Regions from separate parts of the Homo sapiens genome. Here region 1 is linked to region 2. Evidence: fine-mapped expression QTL. A gene starts in region 2. The other region holds a variant in brackets. All regions are shown on one strand. Distances are between the middles of the regions. Region 1 overlaps ARHGEF6 (Rac/Cdc42 guanine nucleotide exchange factor 6). Region 2 holds the start of ARHGEF6 (Rac/Cdc42 guanine nucleotide exchange factor 6).

Region 1 (10,035 bases), 63 kb before region 2:
CTGAAGGGGCCTTGCGATTTACACAGTACTGCTTGGTTATTTATTTCTTGTAGAGACAGGATCTCTCTATGTTGCCCAGGGTGGTCTCAAACTCCTGGTCTGGAGCAATCCTCTTGCTTCAGCCTTCCAAAGTGCTGGGATTACAGATGTGAGACCACATCAAACCCCACAGTACTGTTTAAAATGTTTTCATGTGCTGTAAATGATTTTATCCTCAGGAAGTTCTCAGTTAGTTAACAAAGAATCATTATTCCTCTTTTATGGAGGAGAAAATTGAGGCCAGCTACCTTAGACATAGAGACTTAATGTCAGTATAATTTAAGGATCACTGTGATAACAAACATCACAAGAGATTTTTGTTTAAGTTATGTTTGTGATAAGACCTTTGGGGAACAAAATCTGAGGATACAGTGAATTTTTAAGCAGAGTTAAAACTAGTCTTTTCTTAAAGGCAAAAGGTGCTACCATAAACAATTCAAAGAACAAAGTAGGCTGAAGTGTGAGGAATTTAACAAGAGAAATAAAAATTATCATTATTATTATTAATGTAATTAGAATCCTATAGGCAAAACAACCAATATGGGGGATCACAATTTCTCTTCCCCTACCAGTTCTAGGGTCATGTCACAACCCATTTCCAAGCCTCTTCTAGTGACAGGTAAAACCTTCATTTAATACCTAATGTAAATGACGGGTTGATGGGTGCAGTGGGCCAGCATGGCACATGTATACCTATGGAACGAGCCTGCACATTGTGCACATGTACCCTAGAACTTAAAGTATAATAATAATTTTAAAAACCTTCATTTAAGCTCTTAGGGACAACCCAGTTAACATTCTGGTATATTTTCTTTCATATATTCTAATTCATTCAACAAAATCGACTGAGTGCCTATTCTGCCAACTGCCGTGCTGCCCACAGGGAGTTTATACTGTATTTGCAGAGACATTAAACAGAGAGTTACAAGACAGAGTGAAGTGTCCTTAACTAGGAGAAGTGTATTAGCCTACCAATATGCCAGCCATATACTCACAAGACAATGCATGATGATCTGCTTTTGAAAGGTGGAATGGTCAAAACAAGTGGAGATCCTGGTAACCGTGGGTTCTCTGGGAAACCACTGGAGTGCAGGGTGGTAGTCCTGACTCTGCTGCTGACTGAGAGGTTGCTTCAGTTTAAAACTTTGCTTACATCATCTCAGATTATGATATTGCACCTACCTGGGGGACCATTATGAAGATGTAGTGACACACTGTACAGATAGGTGCTGGGTAAGTGGGAAACAGACCTACCAATTTAAAGGGTTAAAAAAGGGTTTCTCAATAGCAACATTATTAACCTTTCAAACCAGATAAGTCTTTGTTGTGATGGAATGCCCATATCATTGCCATGACATTGCCAAATGTCACCTGAAAGGCAATATTGCCCCCAGTTGAGAATCACTGGCTTAGAAGAACACAGGATGGCTTCAAAAGCTCGGGCTTAAATTGTAACCCCTATACCCAGCCACTCATGTCTACTTTCAGTTCCTCTATTCCTCAGAAACTACCCTCTAAAAGTGTAAATGCAGGGTTCTGGAGGTATTGATGTTCTCGGAAATTAACCCAGTAATGGAATAGAAATATTCCCCTCTATAGAAAGTCCAAGCGCGAGAATGGAAATTAGAAACTACTTTGAGATGAATGAAAATGAAAACACAACATACAAAAACTCATGGGGTGCAGTTAAACAGTGCTTAAAGAAAACTATATACTTATAAATGCCTATTTTAAAAAAGAAAAAAAAGACTTTCATTTTTCAGTCTGACATGTAAGGAGCTTAGAAGTCATTACTCCATCCTAACAGGAAGGAAATAGCTAAACAAACTGAAATAAACCATCGTTTTCTCTTAAATCTGTCAGAAAAGAGAGGTCACAGGGAAAACTGCTACTCCAAAAATTGGAGAAACAGGCAGATAAAGAGAATCACAAATTACCAGAGCAGAAGTCCACAAGCAGAAGCCTCCACAGGAACCAGCACTAGGGCAGAAAAACCTACACTGTAATTGACAAACTTCTGGGGGCTCTGTACAGGCAAGTCTGAGAGTTAGGAACTCCAGGGGCCCAATATTAGGACAGCACACTCACACTTTTGTGAGTTTAAGCTCCAGTTTCTCTCAGTGAAGATTAGAGGAAAATACCCTCATGCTTCAGGCAGAGGGAGGGAAAAAGTTGCCTTTTTGAATATGCCAGAGCACTCTATTCTTCTTAACAAGGTCTGCCCTCAGGAGAAACTATTTTACCAGAGCATAACCTATTTTTTGTTTGTTTGTTTGCTTTGTTTGTTTGTTTCTGTTTTTGTTTTTTGAGACGCAGTTTCGCTTTTGTTGCCCAAGCTGGAGTGCAATGGCACAATCTCGGCTCACTACAACCTCCACCTCCTGGGTTCAAGCCATTCTCCTGCCTCAGCCTCCCTAGTAGCTGGGATTACAGGCATGCGCCATCACGCCCAGCTAATTTTGTATTTTTAGTAGAGATGGGGGTTTCACCATGTTGGTCAAGCTGGTTTCGAGCTCCTGACCTCAGGTGATCCGCCTGCCTTGGCCTCCCAAAGTGCTGGGATTACAGGCGTGAGCCACTGCGCCCGGCCTGAGCATAACCTATTGAATTTTTATCAGATGCTAACTGTTATGGGGGAAGGTCAATAAGCAACTCCAGCCAGCTCTAGCCTTCCACATGGGGGAAGGAAGATAACCCAACTCCAGCCCTTTCTAGCCATCCTGTCCCACCTAAGCGGGAGAACTAGGAAGCACGGGTGAAGTTCACAGTCCAGGGACACAAGCTCATTAAAAACTGAGACCTAATCTGGAAACATAGAATGTTTCCCCTCCTTCTACACCTTACCACCACATTACTAAAGGATTATTTACCACAGTTCCTTTACCCAGTACATCATGTCAGGCTTCCAACAACAATTTACAAGGCATATTAAAAGGCAAAAAATACAGTATGAAGAGACAAAGCAAGCATCAGAACTTAAGTCAGGTAACACAGGAATGTTAGAATTATCAGACCAGTGTTTTTAAGTAACTGTGATTAATATACTAAGGACTCTAACAGAAAAAGTAGACAACGTGCAAGAATAGATGGATATTATAAGCAGAGAAACAGACATTCTAAGAAAGAATCAAAAAGCAATGCTAGAGATTAAAAACACTGTAACAGAAATGAAGAATGCCTGCACATGATGGACTCAATAGTGATCTGGGCATGGCTGAGGAAAGAATCTTTGAGCTTGAGAATATGTCAATAGAAACTGCTACAACCAAAAAGCAAAGAGGAAAAAGACTGGGGGTAAAAATAGAAGAGAATATGAAAGAACTGTGGGACAACTACAAAAGGTGCAACATTCATGTAATGTGGAAATATCAGGAGAGGAAAGAGAAAATAATAGAAGAAATATTTGAAACAATAGTGGTTGAGAATTTACTCAAAATTAGTCAGACACCAAATCACAGATCCAGGAAGCTCAGAGACCAAGTAGGATAAATGCAAAAGAAAATTCTAATCATGTGATATTCAAACTCCAGAAAATCAAAAATAAAGAAAAAAGTATTGAAAGAAGCCATGGGAAACAAACAGTTTATCTATACAGAAGTTCAAATAAAAGTTACATCTGACCTCTCCTCAGAAACAATGCAAGCAAGAGGAGAGTTGAGTGAAATATTTAAAGTGTTGAGAGAAAAACCCACTAACCTTGAGTTCTGTATCTTGTGAAATTATCCTTCAAAAGTGAAAGACATATCAAGACTTTTTCAGACAAACAAAAACTGAGGGAAACTGTCACCATTAGACCTGCCTTGCAAGAAATGTTAAAAGAAGTTCTTCACAGAGAAGAAAAACAATATAGGTCAGAAATCTGAATCTACATGAAGAAGGAAAGAATATTAGAGAAGGGATAAGTAAAGATAAAATAAAAACTTTTTTCTTATTTTTAATTGACCTAATAGATAACAGTTTATTCAAAATAATAATAGCAGCAATGTATTTGATTATGTGTGTGTATATACTAATGTGTATTTATGTGTAAGTAAAATGAGTGACAGCGATCATACAAGGGATGGGAGGTAATAATTAGGAATACTATGTTATTATAAGGTACTTGCACTACCTGCGAATATAGTATGTATCTTTGTATAGTATTATATGAAAGTGAACTGGGACTAGCTATCAAGGCATAGAGCAACCACTAAAAATGTTTTTCTTAAAGAAATATAACTGATAAGTGAAAAAAGAGAAATGGAATCATATAAAATGCTCAATTAAAACAAAAAGCAAAAAAATGTGGAAGACAAAAAGCGAACAACGAAAAGGGCAACAAATAGAAAACAGTAACAAGTATGGTAGGCATTAATCCACCTATATCAATAATCACTTTAAATGTCAGTGGTCTAAATGTACCAATGAAAAGACAGACATTTTCAGAGTGAATCAAAAAATAAGACCCAACCATATGCTGTTAATAAGAAATTCAATTTAAATATAAAGACACTTATAAATTAAAAGTAAAGGGATGAAAAAGGAGATATCATGTTCATACTAATCAAAAGAAAGCTGGAGTGGCTATGTTAATTTTAGACAGAGCAAACATTAGAGCACGAAAAATTATCAGGAATAAAAGAGGCATTACATAATAATAAAGAGGTCAGTTCTCCAACAAGACATAACAGTCCTTAATATGTATGTGCCTAAAAACAGAATCAAACTACATGAGGCACAACTTTTATAATCAAATGAAAACTCTTCCATCAAAATTGCAGTGGAAGCGTTCTCCCTTCAATCAATAATAAAAAAAAATTAACACTCTAGTTCCTTGTCAGTGCAAATGACAATAAATTTGCTTATTTAACCCA[T/C]TCTCATTCAAAGACCAGGTGAATAAAGTATATTGATAAATCTGAAAGTATATTGATATATCTAACTTCCCAAAGAATGACAATAACAATTATGAAAAACTGTTAAATAATTTATACAAATTTCTTTATGCATAGCTTTTTAGAACTTTTAGTATGATAAATATATTTTGAATCTCTAAGCAGGGCCAATATGATATTGTGTTTTTCAAACATATTTGACAATGGCATTGTGTATTTTTTAGGCATTTTACACACATTGGTACTTGCTAATTGCTATTCCAAGAAATGAACAAAGGAACAAAAGAAATGAACAAAAGAAACATTTTCTTTGGCTGAGTTATATTTTAATATTATGCATTTCAGTGAGAACTGACATTAGAAGTAGCTATATAAAAGGCCATCATAGTTGTAAACTATTGTTGTAAACTATAGTTAAAGACATTGTCCAGTATGTTGACTGGCATTCTTGGAGTAAATTCCTCCTGTGATTTAATACTTGGTAAAAAAAAAAAAAAAAAAAAAGTGAGGCAAAAACTGCTAGAACTTCAAGTAGAAATAGATAAATTTATTGTAGTTGAGACTTCAATACCCCTCTATCAGAAATGGAGAGATCCAACAAGCAGAAAATCAGTAAGGACATACTAGAACTCAATAGTACCATCAAGCAACTGGATAGAGTTGGCATCTATAGACTACTTTATCCAACAACAGCAGATTACATATTCTCCTCAAGCCTACATGAAACATTCCTCAAGACAGACCACATTATGATCCATAAAACCCACCTTAGCAAATTTAAAAGAATAGAAATCATGCAATCTATGATCTCAGACGACAATGTAATCAAACTAGAAATCAATAACAGAAAAATACTTGGAGATTAAACAACACATCTCAAAATACATTTATTTTCTAAAAAGATATTTCAAGAGAAATTTTAAAATATTTTGAACTAAATGGAAATGAAAGAAGAACATTAAAATGTGCGGAATGCAGTGAAAGCAGTGCTTGTAGGGAAATTTATAGCACTGAATGCATATATTAGGAAAGAAGAAAGATCTAAAATAAATAATCTAAACTTCCACCCTAGGAAACTACAAAAAGAAGAGCAAACTAAATCTAAAGCACACAGAAGAAAAGAAATAATAAAAATTAGGGCAGAAATCAATGAGATTGAAAACAGAAAATCAGTAGAGGAAGTTAAAACCAAAAGGTGGCTCTTTGAAAAGATCAACAAAATTGATGAACTTCATTGAAAAAAAGAGAGAAGATACAAACTGTTAGTATCAGAAATGAAATGGCAGGATATCACTAGCGATCCCATGGACATTAAAATAATGTTAAAGGAATATTATTAATAACTCTGCCTACAAATTTGATAACCTAGATTAAATGGACCAGCTTTTTAAAGATACAATCTGCCAACACTCACAAGAGAAGAAATAGATAATCTGAATAGGCCTACATCTAGTAAAGAAAATGAATTGGTAATTAACATCGTTCCAAAACAGAAAGCATTAAGCCCAGATAGGTTCACTGGTAAATTCTACTAAACATTTAAGGAAGAAATTATATCAATTCTTTACAATCTCTTCCAAAACACAGAAGCAGAGAGAATACATACTTCCTAACTCATTTTATGAAGCCAGAATTATCCCAATACCCAAACCAAAGACATTACAAGAAAACTACAAACCAATATCTCTAATGAACATAGTTACAAAAATCATCAACAAAATATTAGCAAATAAAATCCAGCAATAGATAAAAAGAATGCTACAACACAGCCAAGTGTGATTTAACAAAGTATGCAAGACTAGTTCAACATTCCAAAAAATCACTAATGTAATCTATCACATCAACAGGCTAGAGAAGGAAAATCACATGATCGTATCAACAGATGCAGAAAAGGCATTTGACAATATACAACATCCATTCATGATTTTTTTTTAATTCTCAGAAAACTAGGAATAGTTTCTCAACTTGATAAAGAACAGCTACGAAAAAAAAAGGGAAAAAAAAGCTAACAAAAAACCCCGACATCTAACATCATACTTAATGGTAAGAAGCCAGATGCTTTCCTACTAAGATTAGGAACAAAACAAGAGTGTTCCCTCACACCACTCCTTTTCAACATCATATTGAATGTCCTAGCTAATGCAATAAGAAAAAAATAAAAGGTATACACATTGGGAAGGAAGAAATAAAACCGTCTTTATTTGTAGATGACATGATTGTATATGTAGAAAATCTGAATAAATCAAAAAAATTTCTGGAGCTAATGAGTGATTATAACATGGTTGCAAGATGCAAAGTCAATACACAAATGTCAATCATTTTCCTTTATATCAGCAATAAACAAAATCTGAAACAAAAAAATAATATTTAGATTAGCACCTCTAAAAATGAAATACTTAGGTATAAATCTAAGAAAATATGTACAAGATCTATACAAATAAAACTACAAAACTCTGGTAAAAGAAATCAAAGAACTAAATAAATGGGGAGATATCCTATATTCATGGGTAGAAAGACTCAATATTATCAAGATGTCAGTTATTTCCAACTTGATCTATAGATTCAACATAATTCCAATCAAAATCTCAGTAAGTTATTTTGTGGATATTGACAGATTCAAATTCCAAAAATAAAAATAAAACCAGTATGTTGAAGAGATATCTGCACTCCCATGTTCATTTCAGCATTATTCATGATAGCCAAAATATGAAATCAGCGGATGCATGGACAGAGAAAATATGGTATAAAAACACAATGGAGGCTGGGCATGGTGGCTCATGCCTATAATCCCAGCACTTTGGGAGGCTGGGGAGAGCAGATTGCTTGAGCTCAAGAGTTTGAGACCAGCCTCGGCAACATGGTGAGACCCTGTCTCTACAAAAAACTAAAAAATTAGCCAGGTGTGGTGGTGCACCCCTGTAGCCCCAGCTACTTGGGAGGCTGAGGTGGAAGGATTGTTTGAGTCCAGGGGGCAGAGGTTGCAGTGAGCCAGAATCACACCACTGCACTCCAGTCTGAGTGACAGAGCAAGACCCTGTCTCAAAACAAAACAAAACACAATGGAATACTATTCAGTCATTAAAAAGATGAAAATCCTGCCATTTGCAACAACATGGATGAACCTAGAAGACATTATGTTAAGTGAAATAAGTCAGGCATAGTAAGAAAGATACCACATGATCTCATCATATGTGTAATCTTAAAAAGTTGATCTCATAGAACTAGATAATAGAATGGTGGTTACAAGGGGCTGGGGAAGTTGGGGGAGCTGGTTGGGATGATGTTGATCAAGGGATATGAAACATCTGTTAGGAGGAATAAGTTCAAGAGAGCTCTTGTGCAACATTGTGACTATAGTAAATAACAATATATTGTACTCTTAAAAAATGCCTAGAGAGTGAATGTTAATTGTTCTTACCATAAAAATGATAACTCTGTGAGGTAATATGTGTGTTAATTAGCTAGCTTTAGTCATTCCACAATGACTAAACATGACAGAACATCATGTTGTACACAATTAATACATATAATTTTATCTGTCAATTAAAAAAAAAGACCATTCAGTGGGGAGAGAACTTTTTTTTCAACAAATGGTGCTGAGAAAACTGGATATTCACATGCAAAAGAAAGAATTTACACCCCTACCTCATACCATATACAAAAACTAACTCAAAATGGATTTCAGAGTTAAATCTACAAAAGTCTTAAAGTAAACAGAGGAGGAAATCTTCATGACTTTCAATTTGGCAATGGATTCTTGGGTGACACAAAAAGCAAAACAAAACAAAAATAAGTAAATTGGAATTCATCAAAATTAAAAACTTTTGTGTGTTAAATGACATTATCAAGAAAGTGAAAAGACAACTCATAGAATGGAAGAAATATTTGCAAATCATATATCTGATAAGAGTCTAGTATCCACAATATATATAGAACTATTACAACTCAACAACAAAAATAATCAATTAAAGTTGGCAAAGAATTTGAATAGAAATTTCTCCAAAGAAGATATACAAATGGCCAATAAGCATACCCAACATCATTAACTATTAGGAAAATGCTAATCAAAACTACAATTAGATACTACTTGATACTCAATAGGGTGGTTATATTACAAAGAAAAAAAAGCAGACAATAACAAGTGTTGGTGAGGATGTAGAGAAACTGAAACTCTTACAATTGCTGGTAAGAATGTAAAATGGTACTGCTACTGTGATAAACAGTTTGGCCATTCCTCAGAAAGTCAAACATAGAATTACCATGTGACCCAGCAATTCTGCTCCTAAAGAAGTGAAAACATATGTCCACACAAAAACTTGCACATGAATGTTCACAGCAGCATTTGTAATAATAACCAAAAAGTGGCAGCAACCCAAAGTCCATCAACTGATAAATAGATAAATAAAAGCTGGTCTAACCATACAATGGAATATTACTTAGCTATAAAAAGAAAGAAGTACTGATACATTCTGCAACATGGATGAACCTTGAAAATATTATGCTAAGTGAAAGAAACCAAACACAAAATATCACACATTATAGAATTCCATGTATGTAAAACTTCCAGAATAGGCAAAATCCATACAGACAGAAAGTAGATTAGTGGTTGCCAAGGGCTGGAGGGAATGGGAAATGGGAAGTGACTGCTAATGGATAGAAGGTTTTTTGGTGGGGTGATAACAATGTTGTGAAATTAGATGAGATAGTGGCGATCATTGTGCAACTCTGTGAATACACTAATAACAGTGAATTGCACACTTTAAAATGGTGAATTTTATGCTATGTGAATTGTACCTCAGTAAAGCTATTATTTAAAAACAAAGCACAAATTTCTCACCTGTCAATAAAAACTCTTCTGTTTTTTCTCTGACTCCAAGTCCTTATGCAGGGTCATGGCCCTCAATACTCAAGCTTGTTCATCATGATAGCTCTTTGTCCATCTGTGTTGTTGTTCACTGCAGTTCCTCAAGTAATCACTTATACTCAGCACTGATATTCATTTTTTTTAATTCATAGAAATGGAGAGAAATGCACTAGAATTCAACAGTACTATATTTTATTAAGTAAAAAGGAGGAGGTAAGGCTCATATGCACATTGCTTTATTTAAAATATTTATTTGGGCCA
Region 2 (10,035 bases):
GAGGCATCACATTACCCGACTTCAAACTATACTACAAGCCTGTAGTTACCAAAATAGCATGGTAGTGGTATAAAAATAGGCACATAAACCAATGACACAGAATAGAGAACCCAGAAATAAAGCCCAATACTTACAGCCAACTGGTCTTTGACAAAGCAAACAAAAACATAAACTGGGGAAAGGACACCCTATTCAACAAATGGTGCTGGGATATTTGGCAAGCCACATGTAGGAGAATGAACCTGGATCCTCATCTCTCACCGCATCTCTCATCTCTCACCTCTCTACAAAAATCAACTCAAGATGGACCAAGGACTTAAATCTAAGACCTGAAATCATAAAAATTCTAGAAGACAACATTGGAAAAACTCTTCTAGGTATTGGCTTTGGCAAAGAGTTCATGACCAAGAACTCAAAAACAAAGGCAACAAAAACAAAGATAAATAGATGGGACCTAATTAAACTAAAAAATTTCTGCACAGCAAAATAAATAATCAGCAGAGTAAACAGACAACTCACAATGTGGGAGAAAATATTCCCAAACTATGCATCTGACAAAGGTCTAATATCCAGAATCGACAAGGAACTCAAACAAATCAGCAAAAATAAATAAATAGATAAATAAATAAATAAATAAATAAATAAATAAATAAATAAAGTAGAAATAAAAATAAACAAATAGGCCGGGTGCGGTGGCTCACGCCTGTAATCCCAGCACTTTGGGAGACCCAGGCGGGCGGATCACCTGAGGTCAGGAGTTTGAGACCAGCCTGGCCAACATAGTGAAACCCTGTCTCTACTAACAACACAAAAATTAGCCAGGCATGGTGGCGGGCGCCTGTATTCCCAGCTACTCAGGAGGCTGAGGCAGGAGAATCGCTGGAACCAGGGAGGTAGAGGTTGCAGTGAGCCAAGATCACACCACTGCATTCCAGCTTGGGCAACAGAGTGAGACTCAGTCTCAAAAAACAAAACAAAACAAAAACAAAAAACAAATAATCCCATCAAAAAGTGGGCTAAGGACATGAATAGACAATTCTCAAAGAACATATACAAATGGCCAAGAAACATATGAAAAAATGCTCAACATCACTAAGCACTGGAAATGCAAATCAAACCACAATGAGATATCACCTCACTCCTGCAGAAATGGCCACAATTAAAAAAAAAACAAAAAATATTAGATGTTGGCATGAATGTGGTGAAAAGGAAACACTTCTACACTGCTGGTGGGAATGTAAACTAGTACAACCACTATGGAAAACCTTAAGTATGGAGATTCCTTAAAGAAGTAAAAGTAGAACTACCATTTGATCCAGTAATCCTACTACTGAGTATCTACCCAGAGGAAAAGAAGTCACTATATGAAAAGGACACTTGCACACACATATTTATAGTAGCACAATTTGCAATTGCAAAGTTATGGACCCAGCCTAAATGCCCATCAGCCAAAGAGTGGATAAAGAAAATGTAATATACATATATATAATATGTATACATACACACACACACACACACACACACACCATGGAATACTACTCAGCCATAAGAAGGAACAAAATAATGGCATTCACGACAACCTGGGTGGAGGTGGAGACCATTATTCTAAGGGAAGTAACTCAGGAATGGAAAACCAAACATCATATGTTCTCACTTATAAGGGGGAGCTAAGCTATGAGGATGCAAAGGCATAGGAATGATGTAATGGGCTCTGGGGACTCAGGGGGAAGGGTGGGAGTAGGGTGAGGGATAAAAGACTCTACATTGGGTACAGTGTACACTGCTCAAGTGATGGATGCACCAAAATCTCAGAAATCACCACTGAATAACTTATCCATGTAACCAAACACCACCTACCTGTTCCTCCCAAACTATTGAAATAATATTTTTTAAAAAGGTCACACGAGTCCTATGAATTCGGTGCCACTATTATTCCCATTTTGTAGGTAGGAAGACTGAGGCCTAGAGTCATAGTTAAGTAACATGCCCAAGGTCACAAAGCTGCTAGTAAGAGAGAACTGAGATTTGAACCCAAAAAGTTTAGCACCACAGTCCATGCTTAAACCACAACTATTTGTCCACGGATAATATGACTAATACTAGTCTATTAATATAGAGTACTTCTTCTGTCCCAGGCCCTATGCTAAGGACTCTACATAAATTATCTCATAGATCTTACAAGGTTGGAGCTCTTGGCCCTAAATTATTATGCAGTATCTTATTTGATTCTTTTTTTTTTTTTCGAGACAAGGTCTCTTTCTGTCATTCAGGCTGGAGTGCAGTGGTGCAATCACAGCTCACTGCAACCTCCACCACCTCTTGGGTTCAAGCGATCCTCCCACCTCAGCCTCCCGAGTAGCTGGGACTACAGGCACAAGCCACCACGCCTGCCTAATTTTTGTATTTTTTGTAGAGTCACCATTTCACCATACTGTCCAGGCTGGTCTCGAACTCCTGGGCTATAGCAATCCTTCTGCCTTGGCCTAGGATTAAAGGCATGAGCCATCATGCCCGGCCTTATTTGATTCTTAAAGCAATCCCATGAGTTGGCTATTAGCATGTCCGTTTTACAGATAAAAATACTGAAGCACAGAGAAGTTAAGCAACTTGATGCTCGTGTGGAAGTATCACCTCCCTTTCAGTAACACTTCCTATACACACTGTAGGGATCCATATAATATAAAATAATGCCACAAAATTTACTATACAATTTCTACCTCAAAGCCAAGTTCTCTCAGCTTTTCAAGGCCTCTGTTCTAAAGTGTTAATGGGAAGGAGTAACAATGGCCTTTCCTCTTTTCTCAACTTGGGAGGATTACAGTGACCCTCTCCAACAGTCAGTGGCCCACTTTTGGTTCCCCTTAGTAGGAGAACACACCCACACAAGCTCTGTCACTGGAAGCCTGTTTACAGGGCTTGGATGCTGTATATAAAAGGCATTATTGTGTGAGTTTTTATTTTGTTTTGTTTTGCTTGGAACTGGTTTCTGGAAAAGACAGACTAGCAATCCATTACTGGGGACCACCAGTCTGCTACCTCTGTTTAACTCAGTGGCCAATGACAGTGAAAATAAACAAGTACTCTTACTACCAATCTTGATTAGCAGAGCAAAAAAACGATGACAACAGGGAAGGCACCCGGGGTAGGCTTACTTCCACTTGGAGGGTTGCACATCCTTTCAGGAAGTCATTGATGTTGTTGATGCAGTCAGCTTCAGTTTGGGGATCCAGACAAAACTAGAGGAACACAGTGAAATGTCACTTGGAGATTGTCATCCCATGCCAAGCAAAGTATACTCATCATTTGCTGATAACTAGAGAAAGCAGGCCTCTTAAGGTGTGGGGCAACACTGCTGTCAATCCAGGAAGAGAAATAACCACTGAAGGAAGTGATGCAAAAATCTAAACGGTCGATCTTTGTTTCAAATGTCACCAAACCTTTAGTGGCAAGCCATGTCTACTTACAAGCTTTCTCTCATGCCTTCTGTTCCAGTGTGCTGATGGCAAATTAGGGAGACCAAGACAGTTTTTTGAGCTTAGTTCTTGCTTTCAAGAAAGGAAGCAATCCCTGGTACCTCTCTCTCCTCCTTCCCCCTGATAATTTAATAAAATTCTATTTCCCCTCTACATTTGACCACACTTCTTTACATTTTATCACTATTTAATCACTCTTTCTCAAGTTTAAGAAATTATAAGTAAATTTATTTGCTCAATAAAAATACAAACTGGCTCATGAAGGCAAAAGTGCTATGCTCACAGTCCATGATGACCTTAAGAAAGTAAATGTAAAATTGTACCTTTAAGCTTACTTAAAGTGCCTACTTTAGAAATTATCTATTCTCGTGATCGTGGATTTCCAGCTATTAAAAATCTTGAATTGTTTTAAAGAGAGTAAAGTTAGTTTCACTTTGAACGCACATTGCATTCGAAACATATATCTGGTTTCTATTGCTTTTACAAACTTTATGTGACATTTTGAATTATTTTTTTCCTAGTTGCTATATAGTCTCTCCTTCAATGGATTTTTCTAAAAGGAAATCTACACTGATTTTAATCAAACTGCCAATAAACACCACCAAGATCTGTTATAAATCATTCTATTTTTCCACAGACTCATAAGTACCCCAAGTTCAAAACATGTCCTCGGTACACAAGGAGATGTAACATGCATCTCCATGATAGAGCAAGCTTGTGATATGAGTGTTCTCCTTGTCCCTTGTTGCCAGTGGTGTCACAGGTTTTCCCTATACTACAATTTGGGGGCCAATTACTAAAGAATAACGTTTCATTTTCTTACATTTTCAAACTACAAAAACAGTAAGAAAGAATGTCTAACTCTTAGAAAAATATTAAAGTAGGAGATTCCCATGGCCTGGGAAATAGAAAAATCTCAAGAGTTACATGATTGCTGCTCTCTGGTGATAAGCAATCCCAAAGAGACTGCAAATTTCCCTTACCTTTTCCACAGAGCCAGGCATGAGTCTGTTGATCAGTTTGCACAGAACTACCCCATTTTTCAGCGAGGACTTTAAAAACTCCTCCGGATCACAGATGGTCTTTTTAGGGGACTCTAAAACTCCCAAAGATATAAGCCATGTCACGATTTGTTCTTCTGGATTCATTACTGAGGACGGTACACTCCAAACAGCACTCTGGGGCAGCTGCAAGGACTAAGCCACATCCGCGATTGCATCTGCTGTTGTCTTCCTTTTTATGAGTTCTCTTCGGGTGCTTGCAGAGCAAAGGTTTAAAGCAACTTTTCTTAAACAACAGCGGAACCCACTCAAAATATGGGATTTTAAAACCACAGAGATCACGGTCCAAGATGTGGAAACAGATAAGAATTAATTTAACAATCCTGGATAACGCTGGTTTTTCCTTTTCAAAACCTGCAAAACAAATTCGTTAGGATAAAAAAAAAGAAGAAACGCACATGCACACACGCATACACACACACGCACACAGAGTGCAAGAAGTTATAAGGGAAGAAAGTGAAAAGGATGCTGGGGAGGGAGGAGAGACAAGCAAGCAAGTGCTTTGGGAAACAGAGGTGAGCCAGCACTTCAGGGGACCTTGGAAATGAGACACTCATGGGCCAGTCTGGGAAAACACTGTCAATAAATAGTCTAGCCCCAGTGAAAATCTGGCTTCTGTTAGGAGGACGATGCCAACTGGCTCTTAGGTCAGACAGATCTGAGCCTCATGGGGAGATGTGCTGGCACAACAGGGCTCAAAGAAGGTAGACAGAAAATTCTTCCAAGAAATAGCCGGATGTCCTCATAGTATCTCCCAGAGATGGTGTGTCACGATCATTCCTTGCAAAACACGTTGAGTTGCATGGTGACAACGTGCCAAGCAAACGAAGATTATGCCTGCTGTCAGCCATCACTGTGTATAAGCAGAAGCTAGAAGAATGGCATTTTACTTTGCAGCCAAAAAGCTATGTTTAGGGAAATAGGCTAAGGATAACATCTGACATCCTGTTTACTTGCATTCTTTAGCAATTCTTTTTCTGGACCTGGTTCCACTACATAATCCAGCTGCAGTACCCTTAGCAAAGGCTCAGACTCAGTCACATAAGTGGGTAAAATACACTTGAAAAAATAGAATGTTTGAGAACAAAAGAGCACTTGTCCTCTGTCTACACTACAATATGGAAGATTCTTATTTTCCCAACAACAACAACAACAAAAAAACACTTTGCACTTAAAATACTGCTCTGAAAAAAAAACTGTCTATAACAAGAGATCTTCATCATTCTCAAACATTTTCAGAACCACTTGAAATAGGCATACTATTGGGAAATTTATGATAAGGCCAACTTTAATAGTATAACCCTATGTTGGCAAATGTGTGGCACTTACCATGATTACCTCTCCTCGTGCATGGGAGACATCAGATCATGTATAGCTCTTTCCTACTAAGCCTCAGAATTCTTTTCAACACAGCTTCAGGCATCTACTACCAAAGAATCAGCTTAGATAACCCTACTAAACATTTTCAAAGCTGCCCTTTCTTGCTCTGTCAGGACACTTGTCACACTTTACTATTATCACTTGTTGATCTGATGATCTGACTCCTCCACAAGAATGTAAACTTCCTAAACTCGGGGTCTTGTTTTTTTTTATTTAACACTGTGTTACCAGCAGACTGCCAGGTATACACAGTAGATGTTAAAAAATGCTGAATGAATAAATGAATGTATTCAGATGGTGTCCCTGATATAGACAGTAACTGATTATAGCAAGGATTTTTTGTTTGTTGGTTGGTTTAAATGGCTTAAAACAAACATTTTTTCTTGTTAATGATTTTTACCATTTTATTAAGCTGTAATTGACACATAAGGAACTGCATATATATGATTTAATGAATTTTGACATATACATACATCTTTGATACAATCACACAAATGCAATCCAGATAAGCCTTTCCATCACCCCCAAAATTGTCCTCGTGCCCTTTCAATTCTTTCTTTCCTCTTTGCCTCCAAATGCCAGGCAACCACCAATCTATTTTCAGTGTCTATAGATTAGTTTGCATTTTCAAGAATCTTATATAAATGGAAGTACACAGTATGGTACTATCTTTTTTCTGGCTTCTTAACTCAACATCATCATTTTCATACTCATTCATGTTATTGTGTCTGTCCATAGTTCTATAACAAGGTTTGCTTGATGTACTTGTGACTTAAGCAAAATAAGTATAATCAATCAAAAGTTTTCATTGACGTTGACCCATGGCCAAATCTATGTAATGGAAATAAAAACAGAATACATTTGTTGATAAATAAAATTCCCAAATCTGACGAACTTAAACACATTTTTATATGTCATCTGAACAGTTTTCACAACTGCTCATCAAAATTTTACTCTACAGACAAACAAAATCTGGCAGTATTATTGAGGTATCACTTACATCTTCTGATGAAGAACAAAGCCTGAGTAAGTTTTGTGAACCCAGCCTCCTCCAAAACAGTCTTGAGTTCACCAAGGTCATCTGGATAAAACTCTGCCTCATTTTGGACACTCACTATAGCAAATATTACTATGAGTAATAAAGTATATCAGAATGGCAAGGCCACTGCCTCAAGGCAAAAGAACCAGTTCTATTTGTATAAAGATTGGAAGTTACAGTTGGTGTGGTAAAATGTCAACAAAGCAAGGAATTCCAGGGCAGTGGCAAGCATATAGGTGAAATGGGTACCCATGAAACCCAGGCTGGTTAGGGACTCAAATGAAGCTAGAAAGGAGCTGATGAACTGAGGGAATAGGGGAAGAGGGGGAATTCAAAGACTGGGGGTCACAGCAACACAAAGAGCAGGCTTCACACAAGAGCATGAGAAAAAAAAGCAAAGATCTCTCACCCTACCTCAGATCCTCAGTACCACACCCTCTGGGCCACTGAACCTGCCTCTTCAAGGGCTTTCCACCTCCATCCTCTCATCCTAATGAACTCTCTAACAGGGCACATTTGGGTTGATTTTCCAAAAACACCTCTAGTGTTAATACCCCTGTTCAAAAACCCTCAAAGGCTCTCTATTGCCTAAAGCAGGAATTGACAAAAAACAATGTTCATATGATCATCTCCTGTGAGGCATAAAGGAGAAAGGAAGGTGAGAGTGGAACTTAAGCTAAAATAGGTAACATTTCATGAAAAATCAAAAGATCTTCAGGAAATAAGGCAAATGTGAACATTTGTTAAGACTGAATGCTGGGTACACTGGTACCTGTTTTACTATTTAGTTTTGTGTGTTTAAAATGTTACTAACCGATTCTCTTTCATTTCAAATCTACTAAGGCACTTACTAAAAAAGAATATTTGGGAGCTCTCTTCCCAGATACTCCAGTTCAGAAGATCTGCAGTGGGAAAAAGGAATTTGTGTTATCAAAGTATCCCACTTGATTCTGATGCAGATAGACCAAGGTCACACTTAGAGAAATGAGTTTATTGGTCTCTAACCTTCTACACCACTCTAATTTCTGCCAACACTTGGGTCATTTCAATATCCACAAGAACAACAATCCAACATCAAGACCTCTCAGTTCCTTGAACTTCTCAACCTGTAATCAATTTATTACCTCTCATTTCCCCTTTATGCCTATTCTGTGAAATGGACCTGGGACCTTGAAATATTTCTGACTTTGCCAGCTGGCATGATACAAAGTTTTATCAGTAGGCAGTGGTGGAGAGACATTGCAGGAAGAAGGGGTTTTACTTCCTGTTTTCTGTGCGCTCACTCCACAAGCTCCTGCTGAGCTCCCAGCTTTCCTATTGCCCACCTTCTGCAGCACTGGTTTTCCCAACAAACAGTAGGTAGCAACCTCCCCAGGCACTACCCTTGAGTGTTTAGGCAGCAAAGAATCTCTGATGAGACAGACACCTTCCATGTGAACCAGCACCGTAGAGGGGTATATTTCAGCAAGTTCCAGAGAATGTACATCCAACAAGTTCCACCAACTCAGCACCAGAGCAACTTCTCCAATAAGGCCTGGATCTCGACCGTGGGTGGAGAGGAGGGTTATCACAGCTCTAGAGGTATCGGCCATTACATATTATTTTTATATTGTCTGCTATTTATATCTGCTATCCCATACTTTTTAGAGTTTCCTTTATTTATTACTAACCAATTCTTCAACACTCCAATCCCCTGTTATTGTTAATTCTTTATGTTAAACTCTTCTTGTTAAAATTACTATGTAGTAGGCTGGGCACGGTGGTTCACACCTGTAATCCCAGTACTTTGGGAGGCCAAGGTGGGCAAATCACCTGAGGTCAGGAGTTTGAGACCAGTCTGGCCAACATGGTGAAACCCAGTCTCTAATAAAAATACAAAAATTAGCCAGGCATGGTGGCGGGCATCTGTAATCCCAGCTACTCTGGAGGCTGAGGCAGGAGAATCGCTTGAACCTGGGAGTCAGAGTTTGCAGTGAGCTGAGATCGTGCCATTGCACTCCAGCCTGGGCGACAAGAGCCAGACTCCATCTCAAGAAAAAAAAAAAAATACTATGTAGTGTCTATGTTCTGATTGGACACCAACTGATACACCTTGTTATCTTAAATGTATACTTCCTCTCCACTTTAGCTAACCTCTTGGAAGGTTACACCTTGTACTTTTTTATCACACAAATTTCTCTGTCTCCTAAGTCATGAATTCCAACATTAGTTTTTTTTTTTTTTTTTTTTTTCGAGACAGAGTCTCGCTCTGTCACCCAGGCTGGAGTGCAGTGGCGCCATCTTGGCTCACTGCAACCTCCACCTCCCAGGTTCAAGCGATTCTCCTGCCCCAGCCTCCTGAGCAGCTGGGACCACAGGCGCGCACCACCAGGCCTGGCCAATTTTTTTTGCCTTTTTGGTAGAGACGGGGTTTCACCGTGTTGGTCAAGCTGGTCTCGAACTCCTGACTTTGTGATCCACCCGACTCAGCCTCCCAAAGTGCTGGGATCACAGGCATGAGCCACTGTGCCCGACCCAACATTATATTTTCTAAACAACCTACCATCTTTCCAGCTTGCTTGTTACTCCCACTACAATTCCTTGACCTCATAGGTATCTGCAAATCTTTTTTTTTCTAAAATGATTATACAAATTTACATTCCCACAAGCAGGGTATGATTTTCCATTGCTCCATGTCATAGGTAAGACTTGATATTTCAGACTTAAAATTTTGTTATTTCATGGGTATGAAATTTATATTTCTATGATTACTAATGAGGTTGAGCATTTAATATGCTTATTGGCCATATATGTTTCCTCTTCTGTGAGATACTCCTTCCTACTGCCCATTTTTCTATTGGGTTGTTTGTCTTTTTGTTATTGGTTTGTGAAAGTTTGTTATATATTATAGATACGAAATTTATGTCATTTATGTGTGTTTGCAAATATCTTCTTATATCTTTGTTTTTCATTTTATGTGTATTTTAAAGAACAGAGGGTCTTGATTTTTAAAAATAAAATACTTTATCTCACTGTTGCGTAAAATAAATGTAGAATTTGGGTTTCCAAGCCTAATATGCAGCTTCGTAATCATCAGAGACCC

What was found. PIP is the estimated chance that this variant, and not a neighbour inherited with it, causes the effect. A credible set is the group of variants that fine-mapping cannot tell apart.
Region 1: its variant is the best candidate, but not a certain one, in a credible set for the expression of ARHGEF6 in tibial nerve (GTEx, PIP 0.50).

Annotation. Positions count from the first base shown.
Region 1 is chrX:136,713,612-136,723,646 of GRCh38, forward strand. The region is part of intron 6 of ARHGEF6 (Rac/Cdc42 guanine nucleotide exchange factor 6); the gene reads right to left. Among named protein-coding and RNA genes, the nearest start is that of ARHGEF6, 62 kb to the right of the region's middle. The variant T/C (reference allele first, on the strand shown) is at 4,893.
Region 2 is chrX:136,776,262-136,786,296 of GRCh38, forward strand. It overlaps ARHGEF6 (Rac/Cdc42 guanine nucleotide exchange factor 6), which reads right to left and starts at 4,671. Exons shown (of 22, transcript NM_004840.3): 1 at 4,457-4,671; 2 at 3,153-3,236. The coding sequence starts at 4,621. RefSeq lists an enhancer at 3,107-3,326.